Regions from separate parts of the Homo sapiens genome. Here region 1 is linked to region 2. The links come from fine-mapping of genetic effects on gene expression. Tissue or cell type: whole blood. Region 2 holds a variant in brackets; the other region holds the start of a gene. All regions are shown on one strand. Distances are between the middles of the regions.

Region 1 (8,114 bases), 54 kb after region 2:
CAGCCTCCCGAGTAGCTGGGATTACAGGCGCCCACCACCATGCCTGACTAATTTTTTTGTATTTTTAGTAGTGACGGGGTTTCACCATGTTGGCCCGTCTGGTCTCGAACTCCTGACCTCAGGTGATCCACCCGCCTCAGCCTCCCGAAGTGCTGGGATTACAGGCATGAGCCACCGCACGCAGCCCTATTTTCTCCATTTTTATACACTTTTAGCTTTAAAAAAATGGTATAATAAAGCCCTACTACCGTCATCAGATTTCAATGGCTTCCTACTGTGAAATGCAAAAACAAATCAGAGAAAAGCCTAACCATTTTTAATCTATAAAGGATAAGATTAGGTACAATTACTTACTTTCTTTTAAAAAAAAGAACTGAACAATTTGTGAATGTGTCTTTCAGCCATTTACAACAGACTGCTGGGTTTTTTTTTGTTTGTTTTTCGTTTTTTTTTTAAACAGGGTCTTGCTCTGTTGCCCAGACTGAAGTGCAGTGGCACGATCATGGCTCACTGCTGCCCCGACCCTCTTGACTCAAGCAATCCTCCCACCTCAGCCTCCCGAGTAGCTGGGACTACACACCACCATGCCTGGCTAATTTTTGTAATTTTTGTAGAGATAGGGTTTTGCTATGTTGCCCAGGCTCGTCTCGAACTCCTGGGCTCAAACAATCGCCCCACCTTGGCCTCCCAAAGTGCTGGGATTACAGGTATGGGCCATTGTGCCTGGTCCACGACTAGTCTTTTTAAGATACTGACACCACTGGAGAGGAGAATGCCCACTCCAACTACATATTGGCTGTTAAAGCATCAAAGTGGAATGGTGGCTTGAGGGAAAATCATTAAAATGGAAAGGGCTAATTCTACTTCATAAAGTAAAAAAACTATTTAGATTTAGGTTCTTACATATATTTTAAAAAGGTAGGGTATTCTAGTGAAAAGTCATGAGCTATGGAGACAGAGGACTGGAGATTTATTATATTATAGATATAAGCCTGAGCACGTTACTCAAGTTGCCTGAATTTCAATTTGTTTATCAGTAAAAGTCAATCATTTAACACAAATTTATTAAGTAACAAGCAATATTCTAGGTATTGGACATACAGCAGTGAACAAATCCTTGTCAGGATGTTCCAAGCTCTGTGGTAAGAGGTACACAGAAATATACAGGGAAAAAAAAAAAAACAAATTTTATAATACAGTATGTCAAACGGTGATGCACATTATAGGGAAAAATAATGCAGGAAGGTTTCAAAGCATGGTCAGGGAAGGTCGCAATGAAAAAGAACACTTGGACAAAGACATGAAGGAAATGAGGAAGCCTGTAAATATCAGGGTTCCTCAAAAAGGAACAGCATGAGCAAAGAGGCCCTGAGATAGGAACCTGCCTGGCTTTTTGAAGACTAAGAGAGCCAGTACAGCTGATGCAGAGTCACAGAAGGGAAGGAGAGTAGTGGGAAAAATGAGGTCAAGAAAAGGTGGCTAAGGGCAGCTGGGTCAAGGTCCTGTGGGACAACCAGGCTACCGTAATGGCTGTGGCTTTTCCTCTGAATAAGATTAGAAGCCCCTGGAAAGTCTAGAATATCAGAGGTGTTTCACCCATGTATGAGAGTAAACATTTACCTCATAGAATTCTTTTGGGAAGACCAAATGCAATATGGAAGGGTTTTTAAAACTAGAAAATAATGTACAAATGTGAAACATTATTATATCCCTAATTTTGTATGTGTCATTTTTATATCAGACAACTTTGTTAAATTCTTCTTCTGCACTAAACAGTGGTAAATATTTCATAGGTTTTTTTCAATGGAAGAAAAAACAATGGTTTTTCTAGGAGCAACTCTCTCCATTTCTATTCCACTATATCTAAGAACATATGAAACTCAGTTTTTTGCTTTCAAATCAAACCATAAAACAAACATTTCAACATGAAATAAAGATGCACAATGTGAAAAACAATCTCACCCTTATTCAAAGGAGCAATGGCAGTCATGAAATGATATGTTCTTAATGAGTGTTTTCCTTTGAACTGCTAGAATGGAAATAGGAGTCTCTAGTGTTAGATAAGAGACTTTGTTATCTTGTTATCACAAGGACCAGCCAAACCAAATTTCTACCTAGTCAAACGTCTCAATTATTGGCATATATAAAATATATACAGAACAAATTTTCACTATGAAGTAAAAACAAATGAAGTATGTTGAAAATAGTAAAAATTATTGAACTAGGTAAATGACTCTTATGATACTAAACAGCCCATCATCAAGTCACTGTTTAGAGACAATGACTGCAACTGACAGCCCTGTTAACTTGTGAAGAAAAACAGTATCCAACTGAAATAACACTGGAAATGGAAACTTAAGTTATCTCCCCCAAGTTCTAGCCTCTTTTTTGGTCTGCTTCTCTTTTTTGTCTTTTTTATTTTACTTCGTCATTTCATAAAATGTGTGATTACCACTACTGCTATATGAAAATAATTCATATTCCCATCACCAATTTCTACCCTAAACTTCAGTGCCACGTTGCCAGTTGTTGACTGGATACTACCAGCAACAAATAATCCCATTTAATTTTTACTAAGCCCAACAGTTCTAAGTACTCTAACTTTGTGTATAAACTCCTCTCTCCATCTTAAACCACCCTCTGAGGACGGCCTTATTATTACCCCCATCTCACACTGGAAAGTTAAATAAGTAGCTCAAAGTAGCACATTGGGTAAGAAAAGGAACCAGCACTTGGACCCCAGGCATTTTTGCTCCAGAACGGATGCATTTAATCCCTGCTGCACCGCAACAGTGCTCCAGCTCTGTACCTAACTCCAATAGATACAAAACAAAACTCATCGTCTACTCTCTCCTAGTTCTTATTGTCCTACTTCAAGTGGAAAGCAACTTAAATTTCAGTCACCCGGCCTCTCTTCCTCCTCCCACAGGCAGTCAGTCCCTGAGGTAGCCGGGCCTGCCTTCATGCCAAAATTTCCCTGGGCAAAGGCCACAGGGATGGGGCCCGAGGAAAGGCAGCCCGAACGCGGGGGTGTGTCAGAGCGCTTTCCCTAGGTGCCCTCCCGGGGCTGGCATCCTCTCTGCTCCCCGAAACCAACTTTCGCCATCCCACCCCGCCCTGCCGCGGACCTGCCTTGCGCTATTCCAGCAGCTCCGCACCTCCACCCACTCCACTCCACCCTCCCCAAACAGCCCACCCTAGTCTCTATATCCCTGTGCCCTCAACTACCACCTGCACCCTTTACCTGCTCCTCTGCTTCCGCCATGGCGCCACGGGAGAGTCACCTGACAGACCCGGAAATAAGAGGAAACCACACACTTGGCCCAGGGCCTTCTGGGAAATGTAGTTTTAGCTTCATCTGAGCCTGGAAATCTCTTCTAGGGGACGGACCTGCTAGGGTTCATTTCTGCTGCCAATTCTCCAAACTCAATGGAATTCTGCTTTGAAGGATGTGAACATAACCATTGCTAATACTATAGCTTATTTTATTGTTGTTCTTGTTTCTCTAGTTATTCTAGTGTTTATTAAGCACTTACTATGTCATGCCCTGGGTTTATAGCTTTGCATAAATTATCTCATTTAATCCTCACAGCAATTCCTACTATCATCCCCATTTATAGGGGAGAATACCGTAGCTCAGAGGTCATGCAGCTAGTAAGAGGCAGAACTAGTAATAGAATTCAGCCCTGCCTGATGCCAAAGTCTCTGTGATTGCCAAATGCTGCTTACTCTAAAAGTGTTCTTGTCCTTTTTTCTCTCTCTTTTTTAAGTATATTCAGTGAATATAAAGCAGTCTTTGCAGTGGAGAGTCAGAGAAAATTTATACGCCAACAAATAATATCATTATTTTTGCTTGCTACTTTGTCTTCTCCTGTCATATGAACATTGATTTAAAAAAAATCTCTGTTGTTTAATAAATTAATTGTTAAACTTTTGTTGAGGATATTCAATAGGTAAATGTTCAAGTGAAGACACAATATGAAGTTGTCCTTGGTCAAAATCTGCACAACCACTGTATTACTTCCAGCCTTCAGAATGACTGATTCCTTCTCCATGTTTCTGAACATTATGAATTCTGTTTCTTAACCCTCAGGAATCTGCAGCACCTTGTCCAAAGACAGACATTTTACAATTTCCATTCACTGGAGTAGCTGGTGACCAGCAGAGGGCATTGCAAATGGCAGCATGTGGTGATTGCCTCAGTACCTTTTTTGACTCCCTGTGCCTCATTGACTCTGACCCAGTAGGAAGTCATGGACTCAGTACTCTGTCTGTAGCTTGCTCAACCCATGATTCCTCAATGGCCCAGAAGCCAAGGTGACATCATCTCTGAGACACCTGTCTTCTCCCCAGGGCCTAAACAGCCTTACCTCCATCTTCTTCCTCCAAGCCTTGCTGGGGTTCCTCTTCCAGTGGGCTAATCACTCAGCCGACAGGATAGACCACCCTGAGGCATTTAAATGTCTATAAGCAGCCAGGTGCAGTGGCTTTCACCTGTAATCCCAGCACTTTGGGAGGCCAAGGCAGTCAGATTTCATGAGCTCAAGAGTTTGAGACCATCCTGGACAACATGGCAAAACCCTGTCTCTACAAAAAATACCAAAAATTAGCCGGGCATAATGGTGTGCGCCTGTAGTTCCAGCTACTCAGGAGGCTGAGGTGGGGGTTAAGGCTGCAGTGAGCATTGATGGTGCCACTGCACTCCAGCCTGGGCAACAGAGTGAGACCCTATCTGAAAAAAAAGAAAAAAGAAAAAAGAAATCCATAAGCAAGCACCCAATGCCCTAAGTATAAACCTAGGGCAAGTATAAACCTAACCCAAGAGTTTCTAAAATCTCTTGCAAAGCAGCCCAGGGCCAAACATTGCTCATGATGAACTCCAGATCCCAGAAAAACTTTAATACAGACCAAAGAGACTGTGGAAGCCCTCAGTCGAGTATCCACGGGAAAGAGAAATAAAATGAGCTCTTCCACTTTTCTGACTTTCCTCACAAACTCCAATTTTCTCTTTTCTGTTATGAGTGACAGCCACCCATAAACCTCTAGGACTACAGCCTCTCCAACTGGGCAATCTCCTCTTCTATGCTGAATGGATGAGATTGGGATGAAGAAGGAAAATAAGGGATTATTACCACTGTCTTAACCACAAGGTCATTTTTGTTTTATGGTTCCATTTTATTTTGGTGAGAAGTCAAGCAGCCCAAGCAAGCAAAGCTGAAGGCCATCCACTCTGGGCCTTCCTGGCCTTTCTACTTTTCTGGAATGAGAATGTTTATTCTCTTTCTCAAGAAGGGTGTTATGGGTCTTATTAAAGATATAGCCAGACTTTATAGGTTTTCCTCTGCTCATTTAACCGTAGAAACTCTCAATTCCCCAAGTTTGTTCCGCATTCAGTATACTCTCTTGATTACAATAAAGTATTATGAGCCTCTTTCCTTTTGGAGAGACTGGAAAAGTGAAGAGACACAGGTATGGAAAGGTGAATTAGAGGAAGAAACCTACTATGAACTAGCAGGTTCGTGCTGGGACAGTGGACAGGATGAAATTCACATGTGACCTCCAAATCCCATTTGCTCATGTGAAGTGAGAGTTTGAGGCTCTCTTATCTAGGTGGTCTTGTATTCTCCAACTACTCTAAGTGTAGTCCAAAGACTACCTGGGAGCTTGTTAAAAATGAAGAATTTGGGGCCCTTTGAGAGATGTATTTAACCACAATCTGGATTTTAATAGTATCCCTCAGTCATATGCATATACTTTCAAGTTTGAGGAGTAGTCAGCCTAACAGTCACTGATTCTGTGTCAAATCACCTGCTCAGTCCACCCTCTCCCAACTTCAAGATACGGAGGTAAAGGGCTGGGCGCAGTGACTCACGCCTGTAATCCCAGCACTTTGGGAGGCCAAGGCGGGCGGATCCCCTGAGGTCAAGAGATCGAGACCATCCTGGTCAACATAGTGAAACCCCGTCTCTACTAAAAATACAAAAATTAGCCAGGCGTGGTGGTGTGCGCCTGTAATCCCAGCTACTCGGGAGGCTGAGGCAGGAGAATCGCTTGAACTCGGGAGGCGGAGGTTGCAGTGAGCCAAGATCACACTACTACACTACAGCCTGGTGACAGAGCAAGACTCTGTCTCAAAAAACAAAAACAAAAACAAAAACTAAAACTAAAACAAAAATGCAGATGGAGGTAAAGGTAAGATTCAACTTCTCATTCTCAGTCTATAGGACCTAAAATTGTTAATAGACTTCAGAAAACAGACCTAAGACCTTATATTTGTAGAGTGGCTCACTGGTTTCAAGGATCTGTCTCATATGTTTGTTTCGTAGGTCTGAAACAGTTTACTAACTCAAATTATAGCCATTTTATTCGTGACAATAGCATTATTTCATTGCTTAAACAATATGAACGGCTTTAATATTTTCCATTATTAAATAGCATTTATAAATTCAGGAAACTTGAAAAATCGGCAAAGTGGACAAAGTTAAAATAATTCACTCTTATGCCCTTGCTAATTAGGGGATGTGTTGTAGATTCTTTTCCCAATCTTCAGCTTCCATTCCTTCTTAGATTGCTACCTTTCTCAATCTACAGGTGTGACAGCTAATGACAAGCAAATTTACACCACATTACACTACTAATTCCAAGCTACAATCTTAGCCTTTATTTAATTAACTGTACCAAATAGCTAAAAGAATATTGATGTTATCTTTAGCAAATTTGGCCAGCCTCAGCTTATTTTGCAGTTTAGTTTTTCCAAAACTGTACCTACTGAAACCTGTTACCTTCTAATATTCTAAATGTCATTTTAAGATATAGCTTATTGGAAATTTCCCTGAGCAACCACATTAGATTTTCTTAATAACATTTTTCTAATTACAAAAGTACTATGTGTTCATAATAGATAACTGGAAAAATACAATAAATTATAAAATAAAATTCTAAAACCACTCATGATTTCTCCACTTAGATTATGATTGTTGGATATATGCCTTTCTTTTTTCTTCTCTTTTTTCTCTCTCTTCCTCCTTTCCCCTCTCTGTCTCTCTGTATTTATTTAAAAACTTGTCCAACAAAGATCATATTACCAAGTTTTGTCATTTTTTTTTACTTAGTCATATTTCAAGATTGTTTCCCAATAACAATCTTGTAAAATATTCTTCTAAAACATGATTTTAATAAAACATGATTTCACATTATAATTCCATCGTATGAAAAGTAATGTATATAATCATTCTATTTTGTTGTATACTTTAAGTACATCTAATTAACATCCCTGTGCATAATTCTGGAAAATGCTATAATGCAAGGTGGTATCAACTGCAGGAATAAAGATCATCCAAATGAGAAATGCCATTGAGGAGTTATTCAGAGCTTACTCTAGAAAGGGAGTCAGCCACCAGCACTTGCGCTGTGGCAGAGACTCAAACACAGGCACAAGAGTGGGAAGGTAGGAAAAGGGAAGGCTTCAGGTAGGCCCTGGTTGGAGGCTGCTGGCATGAGAAAGCTGCAGGTGGGGTAACCAGAAGTGGGGCAACCTATGTGATTGGTAGGGGTGGATATTTGGTTTTCTCTGGTTGCTCTTAGTTGGAAGTGGGAGTAAAAATTAAGGAAGTTGTCAACTACCAATAAAGTCCTGGTCATTTTAGGCTGATTGTTTCAGAGGTTATAGTTAAGGTTCCTGGATTGTTACTAGAGATGGCAGTTTTGACTGTCAGGCTAGATTCCTGGGTTTTCTATTGTGGACAATGGCTTGGTTTCCTGGGCAATTGCTGCAGCTTGCTTCAGACTGTGGGTCAGAGTTCTATTTTAATATCTGGTCTGGCCAGTGCCCCTTTATATATTCAGTCTCTCACAATTTATTCTACAGTGAGCTATATATGAGAGCTCTAAACCCTCCTACCATCAAACATTAGATATTATCATTTTTTACACATTTCATTAATTTAGCTTGGGGAAAATAGTATTAATATTTTAATTTTTGTTTTAACTGTATGTCTTTGATTTCTGATGAGGGGATGTTTTTCATAAATTTACTGGCCATTTTCAACTTTGTTCTGTCCTTTCTACTCTTGCTCTTTACCCATCTTTTGTGGGAAAGTTGATCTTTTCCCTAT
Region 2 (8,114 bases):
ATTTTGCCAAACTGTTTTCCAAAGTTGTTACACTATCGTACATCCACCAGCAGTGTATGAGAGTTCTAGTTCCTCCACATCCTAACCAATACTTGGTATGATTAGTCTTTGTAATTTTAGCCATTCTAAAGGTATATTTAGTGGTATGCATTATTCCATTTTAATTAGTTTTAATATGATTTTTTCCTTGCTATAAATTAAACTTAAAAAAAGCTAAAGTGTTAACATTTAATAGCTGCCCATGGAAATAATGAAATTCATCTTAATAGAAGTATAAAATAAAGACTGGGCAACCAAATGACAAGAATGTTGTGGAAGTATAGCCGCACCAGAACAACATGGTTCAACTTCTGGGTGACAAAGTTGTGCGTTTTCAGTTGCCATGGACCCTCAGCTCATGTAACCTGAGCATGCCCAGATGAACCAAGCATGCAACCACAGGGGGAATCTAAGAGCAGGATGAATTAAGAAGCGAACACCACCTAACAGGATCCAGGATCCAATCAGATGGAGCTCTAGCATCACCCCAAGTCAGGATCCAGTAAGATCAGACCTCCCGGCATCACCTCATTGCAAGATCCAGTCAGATCACACCTCATTATCATATGCTTATAAAACCTGACCCAGTCCCCAGCTCCGGGAGACACTGCTTTGAGAACTATCCCTGGTGTTCTCCCTACTTGTTACAAGCAATAAAATCCCTTTACTAAATACTAAATCTTACTAAATCTCCTTGGTTGTGGTCATTGGGTTGATACCTAGCCCAACAATCAAACCAACCTCTTGTGTGGGTAACAAGAACTTCATGTCTTGAGTGGCTAGATGAAAAATATCCATTAAGTATTCAACTATCCTAATATATCATGATCCTATTAAATGAAAAACATTAGAAATTATAGCCAAATAAATAAGTTCTAGAGCAGGTGAATAAAACAAAGCTACACAAACAGAAAAACAGAGCTTGTTTAAGAAAGAAGTATACACTACCATTTTGAAGTATACCCTGTCATGGTTCCCAGAGACTAAGAAGTCTATTATTAACAAAACAAACTCAAGCTTAAAATTATTTATTGTTAAACCATATGCACAGACACTCATACTTTATCCACATATCTGGTCCATGACATCCGATTTACCATCATCCTTCTGGTTCATTTAGTTCCCTAAATACTCTGAACTCCAAAGTCAGTCACCACAAAGACACTCCCTTGAAAACACTCCATTCTTTTTCCTTTGGTCCTTTGGCTAAACCTGCCAAATAATTTGCTCCTATTGCATCTCACCATCCATTCTTTCCTCTCCACTCCCCTACTCCCAAGATACTACTAGATAATTAACACAATATACATGAAGACAAGAAGTCCATGGTAAATGTTCCTCACCCTTTGGTGATTCCCTGTTTCATAAGAAGAATGTGGCCGGGTGCGGTGGCTCACGCCTGTAATCCCAGCACTTTGGGAAGCCGAGGTGGGCGGATCACAAGATCAGGAGATCAAGACCATCCTGGCTAACACAGTGAAACCCCATCTCTACTAAAAATACAAAAAATTAGCTGGGCATGGTGGCTGGCACCTGTAGTCCCAGCTACTTGGGAGGCTGAGGCAGGAGAACGGCATCAACCTGGGAGGCGGAGCTTGCAGTGAGCTGAGATTGCGCCACTGCACTCCAGCCTGGGCGACAGAGCGAGACTCCTTCTCAAAAAAAAAAAAAAAAAAAAAAAGTATCACTGTCTTAACTCCACTCTAACAACCTGGAAAATACACATTCACCTTTCCAGATTCACCTCAAATTTCACTTTCTACAGGTTCCCTGTCTCCCAACTGCAAAGGTGGAGATTCCTCCCCTAGGTCTACACCTTATTCATAATCCTTTTAAAGCTCTTACTTTGCAATAATGGCCTTGAACCCCAAAGAAAGAACCACCAGAACTGAGAGTACCCTGTACTGAAGAATGAAATCCAAAGGCTTCAGACAACTAAGCCCCAGTCTACTACCCAATTCAGAGTCATGTTCCACAAAGTTAAAATTACTTCAACCCTGACTTTGAAATATGTGAAATACCAGGGTAATTTCATTCAGTGAAGGAATATTTTCAGTTTTAGCTATTTAAGGGATATTTGCCTAAATGTAGTTACCACTGAAGGGTCAGATGTTAAAACATTCAGTAAGTATGACACTTTACTCTAAAAGAGAGAAGCATCCTTAATTCTGACCATGTTTTCTTAGCCACTTTGGTGCGTAGAAGCCATCAAAATTATCAAGTTATCTATAAATACTTAACCCACAAACTTGAGATTATTTTTTAATGCAGACAACTGGAAATATGACTTGCCTTGGCATCATTTATCAGAAGTTAGAATGATTTCCATTTAAGTAATTTTCAATTCCTTTGACACATCTCTTATCACTCAAAATACGGGGTTCAAATATAGAAAACAAGTTCTTTAAACACACAAGAATCTGAGACCTGTCAATCAGTCTTAAACAAGTATTACAGGCACTGGCACACTTGAGCCAACAATGAACCACTTTGATCATATCAAAAAGATACATGCCCTGCTTGCCAATTAATGATGCCACATCTAGAACAGCATACTACAGATGGTATTTGCTTCAGGTCGATAAGTGAGTACCATTAGACCAAGAGTAGAGCAGGGTTCTTTGTTCAAGGATACATAGCTTAAGTTTATAGATCTGCTCCAAAGATTCTTTCAATGAACAGTCACCCAACATCACACTGGCCACATTATGAATAAGCCCAAAAGAGTTAGGCTGTTTAGGTGAATAATGAATGTATGGCATCTGTATTAACTGTCAAAGAGATGGTCATGGCCATACAATTTCCTATAATGTACACACAATAATCCTGATATGGGAGAGGAAGGTATGAAAAAAACCTTGATTATCTGGAAAATAGTCTAAATATGTGAAACTGCAGATTTGGAACTATGGATTAGTTCAGCGAACTTCTATCAATTTCTTATTTCTATCAGTTCACCAGCTTTTATGTTGAGCACTGATGATGCAGAGATAAATTACACAAACTGTCCTCAGGAAATTAGCATTCTATGTGGAAAATGACATTGAGGCATATAATTGTGACAAAAGTACCGTACGTTCAAGAAGTGGAGAAAAAAAAAAAAAGCAAAGTGGAGGTAACACAAAGAAGGAGATGGTTAAGCCATGTAAAGGATAAAAAAAAAAAGTGGGCCAGGCGTGGTGGCTCACACCTGTAATCCCAGCACTTTGGCAGGCCGAGGTGGGCGGATCATGAGGTCAAGAGATCGAGACCATCCTAGCCAACATGATGAAACCCTGTCTCTACTAAAAATATGAAAACTAGCTGGGCATAGTGGCACATGCCTGTAGTCCCAGCTACTTGGGAAGGCTGAAACAGGAGAATCACTTGAACCTGGGCGGC[G/A]GAGGTTGCAGTGAGCTGAGATTGCGCCACTGCACTCCAGCCTGCTGACAGAGTGAGACTCCCTCTCAAAAAAAAAAAAAAAAAAAAAAGGTGTTTGTGAATACTAAAAATGAAATTTAAGCAGCTTAAAGGAACACTGAATCTTCACGATGATACTGTCAAAGAGAGAGGAGAGAAGGAAAATGATCATTTCTTTTGCTGAAACATGAAAAAAGAGATGGGTGATCCTCCAGACACTCATACATCAATCCAAAGCAAAGAGAAAAGAGGAGCTGATTTATATTAGAAATAAATTCTTCGCAGCCAAAGAAAGCAACAAAAGGTCAGCAATACAGTCCAAAAGATGGTCGAGTCCCAAAGTCCAGGGAGAAAAATGAAACCATCATCACTCACAGATGAGGAACCAGTCACAAAAACATGTTTTGAAACTCAGGTTAGGGAAGTGCCCTAATAAGAATGTTTCGCTACATAAGGGAGGTCTTGAATGTACAAGGAGATAAGGGTGGAAGAGTAGTGGGCATGGAATACATAACCAGAACAGCTCAAGCCCAATTTACACACTTCCTTCCCTGATACCGTTTGCATCTGGAATGATCTTTTAAAGTCTCTTTAGCTTCTAAACTTTGATGACTTTATACATTACCCATAGCAACTAGAAAATGTATGAGTATATATTAAAAACTTAAATACTGCTGAACATAAGGGTTACTTTCCAAAAGTAAGATTTAAGACTCTGATCTTATATTAGTCAGCTTGAACTGCCATAACAAAATATCATAGAGTGGCTTAAACAACAGAAATTCTCCTAGTTTTGGAGACTGGAGGTCCTCAATCTGCCAGTATGGTCACATTCTGGTGAGGGTTCTCTTCCTGGTTTGCAGACAGCCTTCCCGCTGTGTCCTTATATGGCCGGCAGGAAGGGGGAGGAAGGGAAGGTCTCTCCTGTCTCTTCTTATGTTGGCACTAATCTCATCTTGAGGACTCCACCCTCATGACCTCATCTAAATTGTTTTTAACTTGTTTTTGTTTTTAAGAGACACAGTCTTGCTCTGTCAACCAGGCTAGAGAGTGCAGTGGTGCAATTATAACTCACTGCAGCCTAGAACTCCTGGGCTCAAGTGACCCTCCTGTCGTAGCCTCCTGAGTTTACACCATGCCTGGCCCTCATCTAAATTTAATTACCCCCCAAGTCCCCAATTCTAAATACCATCACATTGAGGGTTAGGACCTCAACATATGAATTAGGAGGTGGGGAAGAATTCAGTCTACAGTAGCTCTCAGTATAAAATTTCTAATTATACATCCAATGGACAAGTGAAGGTAGAATAATACACAGGAGAACAGAGAACCAGCTCCCAGAGGCCTCCTGAAAGGTAGTAACAGAAAATCACCAGTTCCATGGTTATGTTTCAAAACAATATTATCAGCCAATATATACTTACTGGATACCAAACGGCAGCAGAGAAAAGAGAAAGGGTGGGGAAGAGGAGAGAAGTATACCAGGAGACATGGCAACTATCCTCCAAGACGTTAAATAGGAATGTGAGGCTGGTACTGACACTATGAGGGGCCACACTACAAGTGAAATAGTAGTAATATAGGAGTTTACAGGAAGGAAACACCTCAGGGCTACAATCCAGGGGAAGTACCTTGCAGAAAGAATGGAGATTCACAGAAGTGTATTCTAGAGAGAAAAGAAGTCATCAAAAGCTTAGAAACAGGCAAGCCCATGGCAATATTTAGAAGGTAGTGAGCAGATAAAAATTACTAGAGAGGGAAGAAATTAAAACTAAGATTAGAAAGGTGGGTTTCACCAAATGATCAGGGTCTGGAATGCTTAGCTAGATAGTTAGGACTTGATGTGGGAAGTAACAAAGAACTGTGAAATGTTCTCAGAGACACAATGGTTAGATGGACAGAGGTCTGGGTTTTTATCAGCACATGAACACGAAAGGTATCAGCAACTAAGGAATACAGTCCATTAGTTTAATCTCAAATCAAAAACAGGAATAGAAATACCAATAGATTCTGCTACCTGACAAGGAGAATCATCAACCCACCTCTGCCTCAAGAGTTTAATTTCAAAAATTTGATATTTATCTTAACACAAAATGGCCACTAAGCTCCTGTTTTGTTTTAATCTCCTTTTTTTGTAATCATCCATTTTATAAATATTTATATAATGTCTCTTACTATAGTGCCTTACAGCAAAACCTCATCATTTTCTATTTCTAGCAAAGAAAGAAAAACACATAAAGGTGAACAGTAGAAATTTATGTTTGATCAGCAAGTTGTTTGCTCTCTCACTAGCACACTTAAAGGAATAAATATTTAAAACACATGGCATAATGCTCCTAAATATTTAACAGAGACATGGCACAATAATTTGATCACTGCTTCAACATAAGTACCCTTAATTAACAAGTTTTAAATTAAAATGCTTAAATAAATTGGAGGCTATTAAAGAAAAAGTAACTACAGTCATGCACTACATAACAACATTTTGGTCAACAAGAGACCACATATACCCACTGTTGACTAAAAAGCCAAATTGTAAAATACTCGAAGAGATTTATTCTGAGCCAAATGTAAGGACCATGACCCATGACAAAGCCTCAAGGGGTCCTCAGAACATGTGCCCAAGGTGGTTGGGTTACAGCTTGATTTTATGTTTTAGGGTGACATAAGACATCAATCAATACATGTGAGGTATATATTGGTTTGGTCCAGAAAGGTGGGACAACTCAAAGAGGAGATGAGAGGAAAGAGGGATGGTTTACAGGTCATAGGTAGATTCAAAGATGTTCTGACTGGCAACTGGTTGAAAGAGTTAAGTTATCAGCAGAAAGAATCAGCAGAAAGGAGTACCTGGGTTACGATAAGGAGTTGTGAAGACCAAGGTTCTTACTATGTAGAAGAAGTCTTATAGGTGGCACCCTTAGAGGTAATATACGGCAAACGTTTCCTATTCAGACCTTTAAGCTACTCTCTTCAGGATCAGAAAAAGACCTGGAAAGGGAAGGGGATTCTCTACAGAATGTAAATTTTCCCCAAAAGAGACAGCTTTGCACAGCTATTTCAAAATATGCCAAAGAAATATATATTAGGGCAAAATACTTTGACTTCTTTCAGGGCTTGCTATCTGTCATGTGATGCTATATTAGAGTCAGTTTGGAATCTGGTATCTTATTTCCTTTCACACTACAAAGAGTCTGTTTTGTCAGTCTTAAGATCTGTATCTTAATGTTAATGCCGGTCAGTTGTGCCTGAATTCCAAAAAGAAGAGAATATAATGAGGCATGTCTGACTCCCCCTTCCCGTCATGGCCTGAACTAGTTTTTCACGAATCCTAAGAGGAGTCCATTCAGTAGACTGAGGAGCTTAGAACTTTATTTTTGGTTTACACCATAGACTACAGTGGTCCTATAAGACTGTAATGCTTTACAAGCTATCTTTTCCTAAACATTTAAATAAAAAAAGATTATAATGGAGCTGGAAAATTCCTAACACTCTGTGTCACTGCAGCCTAGTAACAGCACAGCACAACATGTTACTCACGTGTCTGTGATGATGCTAGTGTAAACAAACCTAGTCAGCTGCCACTCATATAAAGTCTAGCACACACAATTATGTACTACATAATACGTGATAATGACAATAAATGACTATGTTGCTGGCTTATGTATTTACTATACTATATTTCTTATTGGTATTTAGAATATATTCCTCCTACTTATAAAAAAAGAAGTTACCCATAAAACAGCCTCAGGCAGGTCCTTCTGGAGGTATCAAGAAGAAGGCATTGTTATCACAGGAGATGACAGCTCCATGTGCGTTACTACCCCTGAAGGCCTTCCAGCAGGACAAAATGTGGAGGTGGAAGACAGTGATATTGATGATCCTGGCCCTGGGTAGGCCTAGGCTAATGTGTGTGTTTGTATCTTCATTTTTAACAAAAAGTTTTAGAAGTAAAAAAGAAAAAAAAAACTAAACAGAAAAGAGCTTATAGAATAAATACATAAAGAAATATTTTGTACATCTGTACAATGTGCTTGCTTTAAGGTGTGCTATTATAAAGTCAAAAGTTTTAAAATTAAAAAGTTTATAAAGTAAAAAAGTTACAGTAAGCTAAGGCTAATGTATTAGTGGAGAAAGAAAATGTTTAAATAAATTGAGTTTAGCCTAAGTGTACAGGGTTTATAATGTCTACAGTAGTGTACACTACTGTCCTAAGCCTTCACATTCACTCACTGCTCATTCACTGACCCACCCAGAACAACTTCCAGTCCTGTAAGTTCCATTCATGATAAGTCTCCTGTACAGATGTATCATTTGTCATCTTTTATACCATATTTTTATGGTATCATTTCTATATTTAGGTATGTTTAAATGCACAAATACTTGCCATTGTGTTCCAATTGCCTATGGTATTCAGGACAATAATATGCTGTACAGGTTTGTAGTCTAGAAGCAACAGGCTATACCATACAGCCTAAGTGTACAGTAGGCTGTACCACCTAGGTCTGTGTAAGTAGAGGCTATGATGTCTGCACAATGACAAAATTGCCTAACGCCACATTTCTCAGAATGCATCCCACTGTTAAACGACGCATGATTATACTATGATTAATGTGGTTATATGGGCATAAATATCGTGGGAATTTAAAAGGAATCTAAGATTTTATAAGAATTCT

What was found. PIP is the estimated chance that this variant, and not a neighbour inherited with it, causes the effect.
Region 1: VPS41 starts here. The variant in region 2 is fine-mapped to the expression of VPS41 in whole blood (TOPMed, PIP above 0.99). The same link has a PIP of 0.9 or more in neutrophils.

The regions. Positions count from the first base shown.
Region 1 is chr7:38,905,910-38,914,023 of GRCh38, forward strand. VPS41 (VPS41 subunit of HOPS complex) reads right to left here and starts at 3,282. Exons shown (of 29, transcript NM_014396.4): 1 at 3,245-3,282. The coding sequence starts at 3,265. RefSeq lists an enhancer at 3,290-3,389.
Region 2 is chr7:38,851,722-38,859,835 of GRCh38, forward strand. All of the region lies in intron 4 of VPS41 (VPS41 subunit of HOPS complex), which reads right to left. Among named protein-coding and RNA genes, the nearest start is that of VPS41, 53 kb to the right of the region's middle. The variant G/A (reference allele first, on the strand shown) is at 3,421.